Linked DNA regions of Homo sapiens: region 1 is linked to region 2. Evidence: fine-mapped expression QTL. Tissue or cell type: lung. Region 2 holds a variant in brackets; the other region holds the start of a gene. All regions are shown on one strand. Distances are from middle to middle.

Region 1 (8,102 bases), 240 kb after region 2:
GCAATGACAAGACACCCTATCCCAGAAGGCAACCCCAGACTAGCTAACGTTTGATGGCTAAGTCAAGCAACAATGGAAAGTTTCCATTTGCCATGTATTGGCTGTGTGACTTTGGACAAGTCATTTCTCCTCTCAGTGACTCATTTCTTTGTCTTAAAGTAAGGGTAATATTACCCATAGGGTTACTGTGAGTTCTAAGTAAATGAATGGAATCCAAGTACTTAGAGCGGCAGCTGGTGACAGCTGCTACAGAGTAAGTAATACATAGGCTGCAATTATTACTATCATTTTTTTATTTTCCTAAAGAATTGTTCTGAAGATTACTATTGTTGTTATGTGTTGCTGTTTTTTCTCAATCTCTGAATGATTTTATAAGAAATAATACCTGGAAAGCATGAGTCCAATATCAATTTCAAAAACATGAATAACCTAACACTAAGATAAACTGAGCAAAAAGACACATTAAGTTGCCATTAAGCACCATAGACACCTAAGTTCCCAGACACTAAAATTACTGAAATTCTACAGGACAAGTATTACCCCTTCATGTGCCTGGTGACAAAGGGAAGAAAGCATGGATACATATGTCATATCTCTGTGATTTAAAGACACTAACCTATCATAGAAGACCCATGAACTTCAAACCTTTCTAAACCAGCTGGGTGGGATGTTTTTCAGGACATAAAAAATATGGTATTTGAGTACTTCAGCTTTTGATATATACTAGAGTCAATGATTCTTAAAATGTAGTTTTAAAATGTTTACTAATAACCTAACAATCAATATAACTCAGTTCAAATACATACAGATATAGATGAGCAAATACAGACATATAGATGTATATAGTGTGTATATATATACACTCTATTTAATTAAAACCTGTTCTCTTCTCTCAGCCTCTAATAATGAATTTCTACCAAAAATGTCCCTGAACGGCAGGTAACACTTCCAAGATTTGCCCAGCCAGCAATTCTCAGGCCTACCTGCATCTCAGAATCACCTTGGAGAGATTTAAACATATTAATGGCAATGTCCAGTACTAGATTTCTGGTTTAACTGAAACCAATGTTGAGAACTGCTGGCTGGGTCAATGCTAGAAGTATTATTTATTGAATTTGAGAGACAGAAGGTGAATTAATATTTCGGGGTTTAAACTAGCATAATCATATGAACTGGGATCTGGGATGAGAGGGCACTCCACAGCCTAGATTGGAAACCTGCCCTATACTCTCTCAAACTATCCTGAATCTGCAAAAGAGTCTTCCAAACATTCTCTCAAAAATTCCTGATGACTGAAACTTAAGATTTCTTTGAAATGAAAGAACACACAATATCATTTCACTGTACTCTGGCAAAATTGTACTGAGCCTTAGTGCCAAATACCTGGTTACACTTATTTTTTCCACCTTATTTCCTTACAATAGTCTATAATAACTGTATGCAGCCTGGCTCTAAGAAATGTAAATCTTCTTTTTTTTCTTTTTTGATCCATCATTCAAAACAAAGCCTCCGCTAGATACTGCACAACATAAAAAGGAAATTTACTGCACATCATAAAGAAGACATTATTTCCAAATGTTTTCGCCTGTCAACATAGTATAGGACTGGGTAATGGCTTTCTGTAATAAACTCATTCATTTATTCCTCCCTTTAAAGTACAATACTTACTGTTTATTATATGCTAGACTTTTCTTTCAGGTGCTAGAGGCTGTGAAAGTGATCAAGACCGATCTGGCCTTCATCCTTCTAGATGCCTTTAAATGCATAAATTTAAGAAGAAAGTATGGCTGTAGTTCAAAGACATCTAAGCGTATGTTTAAAATAATGGAAATCTAAAATAACAACACTAGACACGTCATATGGAACCATAATTTACTAAGCGCGTACTAGAAACCAGACGTTGTGTTACTCCCTTTATACATGGCACTCATTTAATAAAGATGCTCTCCTAAAAAGATTAAACTACCATTTAGAAGAAATTACACGAAGACAAACGAGAAAAATCTTTCCTTTAGCAAAGTTTAAATGTGGCCTTTCCACAGTGGAGAGAATCTTCCATCCTAAAGTGGACAGGAACGAATTATGAAGTTGTGTTCATTCATTCACACAAAAATTTCTTCATATTAGTTCAACCAGATTAACTATGAGAAGATGTTTGGGTTAAAAAAATCACCTTGTCATAAAAAGATACTTCCAATTTCAAATCTTTTCAGTTGAAAATTCTATAAACTATATTTTAAGCATGATGCATAAATATCCCTCTGTCGTTATCACTGAGCAACAGTGCTAATAAATATGTTGCCAAACCAATAAAATAAATAAAACATTACTGCGTGCAGTAATTAGTCTTAGCTTTTTTTCTTTTTGCAAACTCCAGACCAACCAAAAGTCACCTGAATAAATCAGAAATTCATAGGACTGCAATTCGGGCCCATGCAAAAACTGAGACTTAACCCAAAGGTGTCTGACAATCTTTTAAAGAGCATTCTCGGGAGAAGCTATTTGACTAATCCTGGAACCGCCACTCAAAAAAATCATTTTTTAAAAAAAACGGTAGAATGGGAACGGGGGAAGTGGAGTCCATTTGTAAGGTTCCGGGGAACTGACTCAACATGGTTCTCCAACTCGAGGTTGGAGACACCGGGATTCCAAAATGGGAATCCACTCACTTCGCTTTTATAGGACAAACGCGTGCACAACTTGGCTTCGGGCTGCATTCAGGTAGTGCCGGGAACCCCGAGCTCCCGGGCCGCCCCCACCCAGCTCTGGCCGCTCCATTAAGGACGAGGGCCGGCTCCTGTCACCTCGCGACCCACGCGCACACACCCGCCCTAGGCCCGCCGTGCTCGATGCCGCGGGCCTGCAAAGTTTCCGCGGCCGCTCACTTGGGGGTAACCAGCGAGGGGTACGCCCAGAGGCTGCGGGGCCCCGGGCGCCTAGGCTGCGCGGGCGAAGCCCCGGTTATGCACGGGTCGCCGAGACCGGCTGGGCAAGCAAGAGCAGCCGGGCCGCCCCGACGTTGGCTGTGCGACTGTTGCCGCGGGGGCGGGTAGGGGGCTCGGCGGGCCGCACTCACCGTCTATGTTCTCCCGGTCGCTGATGTGCTGCAGGTTGCAGCCCGTGTCCTCGCGGCTCAGGTCCGTGTCTGGCCGGTAGGACTCCAGCCGGGAGTGGGCATTCCTCCGGAGCTTGGGACTGGACGACACGCAGCACGAGGTAGTGTTCCCCATCTTCGGCGGCCCCCCGACTCCTGCTGCTATCCTGTTCTCCCAGTCCCCGGGAGCGGGGCGCGGGTGGACGCGGGGCGCGGGCGGCGGGGGCGTGTGGGGAGGCCCGCCCGCTCGCCGCCACGGGAGGGGGCGGAACGGCGGCCGGCCGCCGGGTCAGCAGCGGCGGCGGCGGCGGGGCCTCGCCATGGGCGGCGGCGGCGGCGGCGGCGACGAGCGGGCGACGGCCCCGGCTCCCCCTCGGCCGGCCTATCCGCGGCGGAGGAGCGCTCGGGTCCGCGCGACTGCGGCCGCCGCGCCTACCTCACCCCGCCGCGGCCATGGCGGGCGGCGCCGCGCAGGCCGCCTCCCCCCCGCGCTTCCCCAGTTGGTGTCCGCTTCCCCGGCGGCTGCGGCGACGGCGGCCGCCTCGGCAAGAGGTTCCGGTTCAAGCCGGGGGCACGCGTGTCCGCGCCGGACGGCGGGACTAGCCGACGAGCGGGCGGGCAGCGGGCGTGGGCGCAGCCCCCGGACTCCTCGCGGCGCGGTGCGGCGCGGCCAGGGAGGATGCTGGCGGCCCTCCCTCGCCAGCGGCGCCCGCCCTCGCCGCAGCCCCCGCCCCGCCCCGTCACCGCCCCTTCCCTCTGCCCTGGAAGCAGATCGGCGGCCGCGGGGAGGTTCGGGGCGGCGCAGCCCCGCGCGGTTGTGGGATCGCTCCCGGGGGCCGCTCCTCTCTCGGGCACTGGGGTCGCGGGAGACGTCGTCGGGAGCTCGGTTTCTGGAGGCCCTTCCCCACCCGGCCTCTGCCTCCTCCACTCCCCCGGGCTGGACGGAACGGGGCCCAGCGCGGGATGCGAGGTGCGTCCCCGGGGCCCGCAGCGGGCGGGAGCGCAGCCAGGGCCCGGTCGGGGACGCAGGCCCAGGGCGCTGAGGCTGCACCTGCCTCTCCGAAACCGGGCTGGCTCTTTTTGTCTTTTTATTTTTCTAATTTATTTTTTTAGAGGTATGATTTCGCTCTGTCGCCCAGGCTGGAGGGCAGTGGCGCAATCTCGGCTCACTGCAGCCTCGAACTCCTAGGCTGAAGCGATTCTCCCGCCTCAGCCTCCAAAGTAGCCGGTACTACAGGCGCGCGCCACCACGCCTGGCTAAGGTGTGTGTGTGTGTGTGTGTGTGTGTGTCTCCAAAGTAGCGAGGACTACGGGTGTGTGTGTGTGTGTGTGTCTCCAAAGTAGCGAGGACTACAGGCTCCCGCCACTACGCCAGGCTAAGGTAGGGTGTGTATGTGTGTTAACTTTTTGTAGAGATGGGATCTCCCTTTGTAACACGGGCGCCCGCCACTAAGCCAGGCTAAGGTGGTGAATGTGTGTGTGTGTGTGTGTTAACTTTTTGTAGAGATGGGATCTCGCTTCGTAACCCGGGCTGGTATCGAACTCCTGTCTTCAAGGAATCCTCCCGTCTGGACTCCTCCCATGGGATTACGGGCATGAGCCACGGCACCTGGCTATTTTTTTTTTCTAAGCATTTAAATAAGCTGGGGCTTGATTTGGGAGTTTTCTATTGTATTTTGAGCTTTGCCGAGGACTTGATAGTGACCTTGCTTTAAGCTGTGAAATAAATCTTGGGGTCCCAGAGCTATTTTAATATTGAATTCGCTGTGGAGTTGTTTTGAGTTCCTTGGAGGTTAACATGAGATAGAAAACTAAGTTAACACAACTCATCGACTGCCCTTGCTTTGCTTTGCTTTGCTTTTAGAATGCCATCGGGTTTTGTCATGTTGGGAACAAGTTAACTTAGGCCAGTTGACTAAGATCAAGGTATGTGAACATGCCTGGCTGGGAGAGAAGTAGAGTAAATGTTGGTTCGCATTCCCTCCCGACGCCCACAATGCCAGCCATCCCTGACTTTTCTTGCCTTTATTGGGAAGAATATAAGGTGGCAGAAACAAACTTCCCACCCTTTTTCCAAATATTTACTGAAGGAGTCTTGAGGAGAGTCTTGTGGGGTGGGGGGGTGGGGGTGGGAGCTGGGAATGTTTTTGAACTAGTTCTTGAAAAAAAAACTAGTACAATAGTACAACTGTCTTAATTTTATATATGAGGAAACTGAGGCCCAGAGATGAAATCATGCCTTGATTTATGCAGACCTCAGTACCTGTTCGTGACAAATCCAGTTACTAAAAGGTAAGAGAAGGAATAAGGGACTTGATATTTATCTAGCATCAGCAATGTGTGGACATCGTGTGAACGGCTTTATAAACATTTCATTTAATTCTCTACATCTAGCCATTTTTTAACCTGTGCTTTCCCTCCCTCTCAAAGTACTGTTTATACATTTATTAGTCCATATTTTAAACGCTCCATGCTCTCAACTGTATTAATGCTATTTGTTAGGATAAGTGGCAGATGTCCATGGAAAATAAGTGGCTGCAAAGTGGTAATGCTGACCAGATGAGAAAAGAAGTGTAAAAGGGAAGTTCTAAAGAATTAAAGCCCTGGAGAGGGTGGGTAGACAACAACAGTCCAAAATAGTGCTCTTCATTGAGGCTGTGTAGATTTTCCTGCTTCCTGGGAAAACTGGGGCATATTTACACTTGCATGTGTGTATTCAGATTGTCTGGGGCTATGGAGTTTGGGTCAGATTGCTGAACCCGTGGGAGAGAAGTTCCCTTGTTGTCTGTTGTTGTCTGTTCTGATTGCTGCTTTGTAATTTGGGCCACATATGAAAGTCAGCATCCAGTCATTGGACCATAGGTGTGTGGCATATCTACTCAGATGCATTAAGCTATTTTTATTTCATTATAAAATGTATAACATTTACATTCAAATTATGGTTTGAAGGGCTTAAGAGGAGAAAGAGACAGTGGCACTAAGGTGACAGCATGGCTGGCTGCATGCTTCCTGTCCAAGAAGGTCACTGGGCAGTGTTAACTGGGAAGAGCATCTGGAGGATGAGAGATCAGTGTAGCCACATACCCTTAACAAAGGGTGGTACAGCCTCTGGTCTGCCAGGATTTTTGTGCCCCGCCCCCCTCCCCCTCTTTCCCTATCTCCTCTTTGACATTTCCACCATATTCCCCTTAGGTATGTACCTGTTTGGACTTTAATTTAGAGTGTAACTTTTGGTCAAGAATCCTGGAGAGAAAAGACGGGTACTAAAGCCTCGCTAGTGATTTACCTGGGTGCCGACCCCCACAACTCATCCACCCTACATGCATACTTCAAACTCCTCCAGGCAGATACTCCCTGCCTGACACACAGTGACACTTTGGGAAAAATTGCAGAACAGTAACCAACTCTGAGCAGATAAATGTGATGTCAAAATGATAGTAATGAGAGATGTCGTTCGTTGAAAGCCTGCTAGCTGCCATGCACTATACTATTTCTTACATCTAAATCTGATTAAGTTATACCCCATTTTATAAATAGACACTTTGATAAGTAAACCTATCTAAGATCAAAATACTGAGAAATGTCCTAATTGGGGATTTGAACCTGGTTCTAATTCCAAAGTCCAAGCTACATCCACCCCAACCTCCTACCTCCTATCTCCAAGACTTTGTGAGTAAAAAAACAAGTGTCACTTCTCTCCTTCTCTTTTTTCTGTCCTAAAGGAAGCTGGGAGCTAACCACTTAGGACTAGTACTAATCTTTCAGAGAAAGGGATGAGGGGAGCCTTGTTATTTCTGTGGGGTTCAGCTCTCAGACCAGAGTAAGACAGGCAACAAGGTTGAGGAGTAGCCATATGCAGAAATAACCTGTGTATCTAGCCACAGGATCTCCAACACTGTGTCACTCGGGAATCAAAATACAGAGACAGTTCCTCAATAGAGTGTGGATCTAGCCCAGAATGTGGACAAGGGGAGTGGAGAAGGGGAGAGGTACACACTGAGCATTGTAACAAGGCCTGTCCTCAAGCTTGAGGAGGATTAGGAAGATGGCTTGAGTCTGGGAGTAGGAGGCTGCAGTGAGCTATGATTGTACCACTGTACCCCAGCCTAGGTGACAGAGTGAGACCCTGTCTCTTAAAAGAAAAAAAAAATTGACCTGGATCTACTCATACCCACCCTGGTCTTTGAGCAGAAAGAATCATTTGGGAATTATTTTGTCTCATCTTTCTCCATGATCACTGTTGAAGAATTTGGTCACTGTAACCAGGTAAATATAAAACTCAGGTGGGCCGGGCGCGGTGGTTCACACCTGTAATCCCAGCAGTTTGGGAGGCTGAGGTGAGTGGATCACGAGGTCAGGAGATCAAGACCATCCTGGCTAACACAGTGAAACCCTGTCTCTATTAAAAATACAAAAAATTAGCCAGGCGTGGTGGTGGGCGCCTATAGCTCCAGCTGCTCGGGAGGCTGAGGCAGGAGAATGGTGTGAACCCGGGAGGTGGAGGTTGCAGTGAGCCGAGATCGTGCCACTGCACTCCAGCCTGGGTGACAGAGCAAGACTCCGTCTCAAAAAAAACTCAGATGAACTATAGCTAAGTCAGTGCTCTTGACACTTTTTTAGCAATAGTAGCTTTGTTTCTCACAGAAAAAACAAAATTTTCTGTGGAACCACACTATTTAAAACATAAGCAATATTAGTATCAACTTGTATAATTTATAGATCTACTGATAAAAACAATCAAGAATAGTCTACCTTAATTGAATCAGGAGGAGATAACTGCAGTCTTACATCAGCCATACTCGTATCCATGAAATATGAGTCAGTCATTTGCACAACTCCCTGAGTCACCTTCTGGAACACAGAAAACACTGAGCCAAGTTAGCCCAGGACCTGAACCTTTTGTGGAAAGGAAAATCTGTAGTGTCTCCTCAGAGTATGGCTGCCCTTTCACCTGGTAGTCAGTTTCTCATGACGGTTACTCGAGCATTTATAAGGCAGTTGTGAAATA
Region 2 (8,103 bases):
TTTTCATCTTGACACAGTCTCATTGTGTATGATGCATGGTAGATTACCGGTACTCAGGATTTGGACTAACCTCAGGAACACATTATCTGTTACAACTTACCGATGGTTCACCCCAGAAGTGTGGCGAGAACTGGTCTTTCTTTTCCTATGTGTAACCTCTGAAGTACATGTGGCCCTTCTCTCCACCTTGTGGCCGTCCAGGCGGGAACCGTGCTGCCTGTCACACCCACTCCTTGAGCACCAGAACTAACTAAATTCTGTGGCAGTTTCCCATTGGTCTTCAAATCTGTGTTCCTCAGCAATGCCTGTGAGGCCTGGGCTGATCAGCTCTTCTCCAACCACATCTCCATCCATCTTCCCTTCTCCCCATCTCTTCCACGGAGACGTCCACTCAAAAGGTCATGTCCATCAAGCTGCCACCTCCTAGTTACTATCATAACCACTCAATTTCCCTCCTGACACTTACCAAGATCCTTTTTACACGCTAACTTATTTGACCATCTGCTCCACTAGAACATCCCCCAAGAAAGCCATATCCATCCCCAACATGAATTAGACAGTGTCCAGCTCAATATTTGTTGAAGGAATTACGTCAGTATAAAACAAGTACACATTTTCTAGATAATATTCTAGAACAGGAATTTTGTTTCGAGTTTTGCTTACACGTAAGGGGCCGTGGCTCAGCACAGGATGCTGCACAAGCTAGGGAAGGAGCTACCCAGCATTCTGGGCTCTGGGTGCCTCACTCTCGGTTTTTCCACATCCTGTATTTGTTGTTTTTCAAAGATTGCAGGGGTGACTAAACCTCTTATTAGTCTCGAGGTTGCTCCTGCAAAACCCAGCATAACCATAACGGGATATTAGGGACGGAAAGGCTCTGGAAGTCACACATTTCTCTGTTTTAAAGATGAAGTGACTCAGAATTGATCACAGCCATGGGACCTGCCAGACCACATGCCTGCTGCATTGCACCAAGGCCTGGTCCTGGGGGGTCCTGCCCCTGCAGAGTCATCATTACCACGCGCTGCCCCCTAGTGCTGGTGTCTGCACGGGAGGAGGTGCAAAATCCTTCTCTTCCGAGGTTGGCTTCCTGAGCTTTGGTCAGCAGGTCTAAGGAAGCATTGCTGGAGCTCACAGAAATGAAGCAGCATCCTCTTCAGGACAGAGGCACTTGGCAGTGGATTCACACACCCACTTCCACTGTTTCGAGATTTCCAGGATCCACCAATGCAGACAAGAACTCACAAACCAGGTCCAGGAATGGCCAACTAGAGGCCACGCTGAGCATTCAGCTGTACTTGGGAGAGCTGGGGAAGAAGGGACAGCAGCGGAAAACTGGGTACCCAGGTCCTGTAAGACCTGCTGCTTCTACCCATGGCCACCCTTCTTTAGGAGAGGACCTGGAGAACACAACCGACTTCCCCTCGTCCTGGGTTTTCTGTCACCGTTAGGCTTGCACTTGGCTTTTACTATGTCCACCCTTGCTACATTTAGAGGAGCGTCCAACAATTGTGGCTGAATGGCTGAGCAGAGTGTGCTCAGAAACAGACTAAGACAGGTGATGAAAACAAGAGTCTCCCTCACAGCCAAGGTCACTGAGAGGTCCAGAGAGGTCAAATAATTTGTCCAAGGTCACAGAGCAAGTTAATCTTTTGGACTGAGACTAAAACCCAAGGTTCCATGACAAAAAAATCAATACCGATGTTAACATCTTATGCATAAATTCTCGCTACATTTAATATTTCTATCCCAAACTATATTTTGTAATGCCATTCTTTTATCCCTTATTTGAAATAACTTATTTATATGAACAAAAATTCTTAAAAGGAAAGCCCCCCACTGAAACCAAGTCCCTTAAAGGACACTGGAAAGTTTATTGAGACCTGTAGAATCTGAACATCATTAAGTCAGACATCATGTTTGAGTTCACTTCTTACTGTAACAGGTTCTGCAGAACTCTTTTCACAAAAACCTATGAAGGACAGATACAGTTGCCAGGCCAAGTCCTCACCCAGCTGCTGTGCCCAGCTCAGACCTGCCACAGTGCACAGAGACAGCAGCTGCCAGATTAAGAAGCTCATTTTGAGGTTGATCACTGCTGAGAAGAGTGACAGACAGGACCTTTAGCCCCTTCACATATGCAAACTTAGTAAGAAAATCTAACAGGAAAACAGGCAGGGAGCCTGCTGACTTGGAGGTACGAACTCCAGCCCCACCACTGTGACTGCAAGCACTCCTGGGCATCTCCCCAGCCCTGTTTGGGTGCAACAGCTCTAGCAGGGCGCTGCATTCAATAACAGCAAGTCAGCACCTTAACCAAGCTGTTTGCAGGCCTTGGCTTGAAATCCATGCAGCTAAAGACATAACACCCTGGGAGGGTGAGGCAGGAGGAGCACTTGAAGCTGGGAGTTGAAGACCGGCATGGGCAACACAGCAAGACCCCATTTCTATAGAAAATTTAAAAATTAGCCTGGCCAGGAGCAGTGGCTCACGCCTGTAATCCCAGCACTTTGGGAGGCTGAGGCCGGCGGATCACTTGAGGTCAGGAGTTTGAGGCCAGCCCGGCAAACATGGTGAAACCCCATCTCTATGAAAAATACAAAAATTAGTCAGGTGTGGTGGTGTGTGCCTGCAGTTCCAGATACTTGGGAGGCTGAGACAGGAGAATCAGTTGAACCTGTGAGGCAGAGGTTGCAGTGAGCTGAGATTGCACCACCGCACTTCCAGCCTGGGCGACAGAGTGAGACTCCATCTCAAAAAAAAAAAAACAAGTAAATTAGGTGGGCATGGTGGCACAGGCCCATCGTCCCAGGGAGGCTGAGGCGGGAGGATCACTTGAGCCCAGGAGTTGGAGGCTACAGTGAGCTATGATTGTGCCACTGCACACCAGGCAGAGTGACAAAGTGAGACTCTGTTTAAAAATATATATATATTTAAAAATAAATATATATATAAAACCCAAGTTAAGTATCCTGTTCCTGTCTCAGTGCAAGAGCATGTTTCTTGTTTCCTTCTCTTTTTCAACAAGGGTAGGACCTCATCATGGCTGACTTTTCAGAAGATAATGTCTTTAAGACCCACCCAAGATGCTGACTCCAATGACATCAAGGGAGATAAAGTGGTTTCAGACAAAATGGGGTATCAATATGAAAGTGACATGTTCTATTAGGTCTCTATTGTGCAACTTCTCAATTGCTGGAGTAGCTCTCATACTTTTGTGAGTCGCTCAAGAACACAGGGCCAATACCACTTTCTACCACTGCTCTTGCAAAGAACTGGTTCACTCAGCATCCATAAAACCTGTTGAATTTTATCTCAATATACTAACTCAAAAAACACAGCAGGAAGGCAGGCACTACTTTGTTCTATGTATATATTTATTTAACATTTATTAAATACCTACAATAACCAAGAATCATGTTTTATTTTTAAAAAATTTCAAATCTGGGCCAGGGGCAGTGGCTCACGCCTGTAATCTCAGCACTTTGGGAGGCTGAGGGGGGTGGATCACTTGAGGTCAGGAGTTTGAGACCAGCCTGGCCAACGTGGTGAAACTCTGTCTCTACTAAAACTACAAAAATCAGCTGGGCATGGTGGTGGGTGCCTGTGATCCTAGCTACTCGGGAGGCTGAGGCAGAATTGCTTGAATCCGGGAAGTGGGGGTTGCAGTGAGCCCAGATCGCACCATTGCACACCAGCCTGGGTGACAAGAGCGAGACTCCATCTCAAAAAAAGAAAAAAAAAAATTCAAATCTGTAAAATATGGCCCCAGGTGAGAAGTTACCAAAAGCAGCAGGAAAAGTTTAAATCATTCACTCCCCAAATTTTGCTTTCAGCTTAGCTTAAAGGAAACCCCAGGATGGAGATGGCTCTGCCCAAGCCCGAGAGCAGGCAGACAGGAAAGCCAGCCCAGAAGAGGAGGCAGGTACAGGTGCCCACACCTCTGGCCTCACCTCATGCATGAAGGCACATCCCGATCTTGGCAGGATTTCTCATCTGCCCTCCAATTTGGTTTTAAACTCCTGACTTCTTCTTTCCCTTTTTCTAGTTAAAAAAAAAAAAATAAGAAAAGTAAAACAAATCAAAAAGATTCATCGGGATATATATTTATTGTCCCAATGACTTTATTTGTTGTTTAAATCAAATATAAAATTAAAGTAACAAATTGTGTCGTTTCCTTCATCCTTAATGACAAAAACTTTCCATTCAAAAACTACACTAAGACAATGTGTTCCTCAATAGTAATCCAGCTTTAATTGTAGAGCATTAATTCGCCTTACAAACAAATTACAGTCACTACGATTTATCAGTAAGTACTGTACTGGTTTTGTGTTTTCTTTTGGCAAACTTTGAACAAATCAGAGAAGAAAACATAACTATTCATCATCATGTAGAAAAAGAAAAGAAAATGAACCTCAAGTATCTACCTATGTGTCAAGTGATTCATCCTGCCAGTAAAACTAAAATCTACACTTACAGCGGAGTTTTAAACATCCTTAGTGCAAGAAACATAACCAATTAATACAGATCAACACTAATTAATGAATATGGAAAATTTTCCTATACAGAGGTAGAATCCAGGGCACAGGCTAAAACAGTATTCAGTAGTCTAAACAAGACTTGAGTCTGGTTTTATGGAATCCACTTTAAATTTTAGGTATCAGACTGTATGTACATACATACAATAAATAGACTATACAATTTTTT[TA/A]AAGTAGTTTAATAAACTCCACAAAATAATAGCAGATGCATTGAAATATTTACATAATTCGATTTTCAAATCTCTCATTCAAATAAAAGGGATAAAAATAAAATTTCTGCCTTTACGGCAGCAGAACCTCTTTCCTGAAATGGATTGGTAAAATAAGATACTTCACTGGAGAGGAACTAATTTATGTTTAAGAGGTATTCATATTCAGCTAAGAAAATACAACCCTTTTTCAGCTATATAGATTAGGGAATATAAAATGATATTTTCTACATTTTTTGACCTGTATTCAAAGTTCTAAATTCAACTTTGACTTGAAGAGAGAAGGTGATTTTGGTACCCATACAGAGTAGATCATCACAATTACAATGGAAAGATAATTAACGTTTTATATGCTGTTTATTTGCTTTTGAAAGTTTGGGTCAGAAAGGCTGTGATAATAATTCTGGCCCAAACAGGTATGCTTATACCTGACACAAATTTCACTAAAACCTAACACTTTTGGCTTGGAGTTCTTGGGATTTCGACTTTCTGAGTCCCTTCCATTTCCAAAGCATGTTTCATTGAGAGCAGGCAATGTTTGGGGATCAGGTGTATGATTCAAGACTAATTAAGATGCCAAAGTTTTCCAAGCTCACATGGGAAGAAGGTGAAACACAGACCTGCTGCTGCCACTGGCCTCCCAGAGACTTGAAAAGGGAAACAACTCAGAAACCTGTCACTGTGACCTAAGAAAATATGCAAAAACCCAAAGCATTACATATGCAAGTGACTCACACTCTTAGATTTCATATCAAATTCACTATTTGATATTCTATCATCAACTTTCATTTTACTTGATATAAAAGATTCTTATTGAGTCCATAAGGAAATCAGGGATCGTCAGAAAATGAAAAAGTATGGTCATAATTAATGAAGCATAAACCTTCACAGTTTGAATTTTGTAGAACTTCTCTAAGCACCCACAATGAAAATGCAAGTTGAGTTTTTTTTAATTCAATCATTCTGTGAAAAATACCTCAGTAAATAGTAACATTTTTCCCTTCAATGATCTTCCCACTGGAATACCCAACCCACCCTTGTTTTTTTTCTTTTTCTTTTAGATTTTTTAAAAATTTTATACAAATAGACTAACTTTGATTTAAAGTAAACATATAAAAATTGAGAAGAATATTGCTTGCAACAATGGACTTGGAAGGAGAGGAATGGATTAGGCAGGGGTACAAAGAAATGGCTCCTACTCGGTAGTTCCAGGCACATGCCCAGCACTCTGCAGAACTCTCACAGGGACACCCTCTGCTGCACCGTGTCCTTCAGCCCACAAAGTCTGACTGATTTTGTAACAACAACTTCAGGTCAGGAAAAAAACAAATGCAAGAAAATCGGAAGGCACAAGCACCCATGTGATCTAGAATGTTCTTGGGGTGAGGAATAAGGAGGGAAAGGGATACTTTTGGTTCAGCACTACAGTCAATTTCGCCATTGTTGAAGAAAAACGGTATAAAATAAGGGTGTACAGAAATGGAACAAGCACAGCCCACTGGTGAGGAAGAAAGCTCAGAAGACAGCGCGCAGAAATAGTGCAGAGAGAAATGACCAGTACTATTTATTTGGAAGTCTGCGCCATGGTGGGTACAAACTACATCCCCTGCTCTGTGGGACCAAAATCAAAACAGGGCAAAAACAAATGAACAAAAATACCCCCATCCCAAAAAAGCAGCAGAAGGAATGCAAGAAGTCTTACAGGACACACTGGCCCAGCCCTGGGTGCAGCCAGCTCTGCATCCACCGCTGCGCTCGCCAACTTCAGCTACCGCCCCCATGGGGACTCCAGAGGGCCGGGCTGCTTAACCATTTTCCCTGCCTCTCCACGACTTCCCTTTCCCTTTATTTCCTCCTCCAGGATTCGAGTCCACTTCCTCCACGAAGGAAGTGCTGTTGCTGACAGTGGGGAGAGCGAGCTGGGATCTCCAGGGCACTGACGCTTCCTCCAAGCCTTGCTGCATGGGCGCTCATCCAGGCAGCTTGACGGAGCTATGCGTAAAAAAAGAAAAGGAAAGAAAAAACAAAAACAAACCCACCCCAAGTCTGTCTTTTCTCAAACTAAAGGAGAAACTAAGGGATGGTGTGGCCTCCGGCGGGCCTCCGTAGTTAAGAGATGATGGCTGGGGACCACCGGGGCAGAGTCAGGTTGTCTGCACTGGCTGAGCGCTTCCTCGCGGATCTTCTTAGGTCCTTGTACTTGTCCTCGCAGAGGCGAGAGATGGCCTGAGGGGCAAGAAAGACAGTGTGGGTCAGGGCGGGCCATATCTGCGTCCATTGCTCACTCGTCCTGGGCGCCGAGGGCGCTGCATGAGGGACAGGCAGAGCCCCTGCCCCTGTGGAGCTCCGGCCCAGAGCCCAGCTCTCTGCTGGCAGCAGGGAGATACGAAGGGAGTGTGGACTCAGCTCTTGTTTCCCAAGAGCTTACAGTCTGAGAAAAGACTCTCAGGATGTGAAATAACAGTACAGTGTCACCTCACAGTCGGCCCGACCAGGGTCAACGCTGGCTCCCCATCTAGGGGTGTGGGACGGGCCCCACCCACACGCGTGCTGTTTTGAATCCTTGGCGTCCTCACCTGCAAGCGGGGCAAGAACAGCACCATCCTGGCAGGGCTGGCATGAAGCACGGGCTTGGAGCTGAGCCTCACAGAGAGGAGAGCTCGGCCGCTGGCGGCAAAGACAGCTGCAGCCAGACCACCAGCTAGGGACTCCACAGAAAAGGATGGAGGACTTAAGTCACCTCTAGAGGGTTGCCGAAAGAGGGACCCAGGGGGATCACAAAAATATGAGATGTGCAGATAATCAACACTTTGGTGATAAGGACGGGGGACCATGCTACTCTGGCAACAACTCTCCCAGGGCTGCCACTGGGTGTGGCTAGAACTGGCTGATGGTAAAAGCTGAGCCCACTGTCCCAGGCTTTGATTATTTGGAGAAGAGAAAGAGCAGCCTTGTCAGGATATGACTGGCCTTTTCTCCTGCCCTGCTGAACCCCTAGGGCCCGTGACACAGCAGCCCCAGAAGCAGGTGAGCTCTCCCTTCTCGGCACTCGGAGAAACCTGAGGGAACAGCAGGTGCCAACTCCACCAACCTCGGCCTGTGCTCTCAGGGTGACTGACTCAGAGCCCCAGATATTCTTCAGCAGAGAACACAAGACTCACTTTCCTGCAGAGCTGTGTAGCTGCCAGGAGCTCCGGCTTGTCTCATTAGCACTGAAGCAGCCACTAGAGCCATAGCTGGTGACGAGGGGGACCAGGGACCACAGCACAGGCTGAGAGGGGGCTCATGCTCTCAGGGAAAGCCAGATTCTACCTCACATCTGTGCTTGCGAAGGTTTCACAACATTTGCCTTCAGG

What was found. PIP is the estimated chance that this variant, and not a neighbour inherited with it, causes the effect.
Region 1: it holds the start of CCNY, and the variant in region 2 is fine-mapped to the expression of CCNY in lung (TOPMed, PIP above 0.99). The same link has a PIP of 0.9 or more in fibroblasts.

The regions. Positions count from the first base shown.
Region 1 is chr10:35,332,182-35,340,283 of GRCh38, reverse strand. CCNY (cyclin Y) reads right to left here and starts at 3,775. Exons shown (of 10, transcript NM_145012.6): 1 at 3,077-3,775. The coding sequence starts at 3,230. It overlaps CCNY-AS1 (CCNY antisense RNA 1), which reads left to right and starts at 3,860. Exons shown (of 4, transcript NR_186477.1): 1 at 3,860-4,064; 2 at 4,208-4,356. RefSeq lists a silencer at 3,410-4,149 and an enhancer at 7,749-8,043.
Region 2 is chr10:35,567,924-35,576,026 of GRCh38, reverse strand. CCNY (cyclin Y) reads right to left here. Exons shown (of 10, transcript NM_145012.6): 10 at 3,360-6,973. The coding sequence ends at 6,857. Among named protein-coding and RNA genes, the nearest start is that of GJD4, 33 kb to the left of the region's middle. The variant TA/A (reference allele first, on the strand shown) is at 4,708.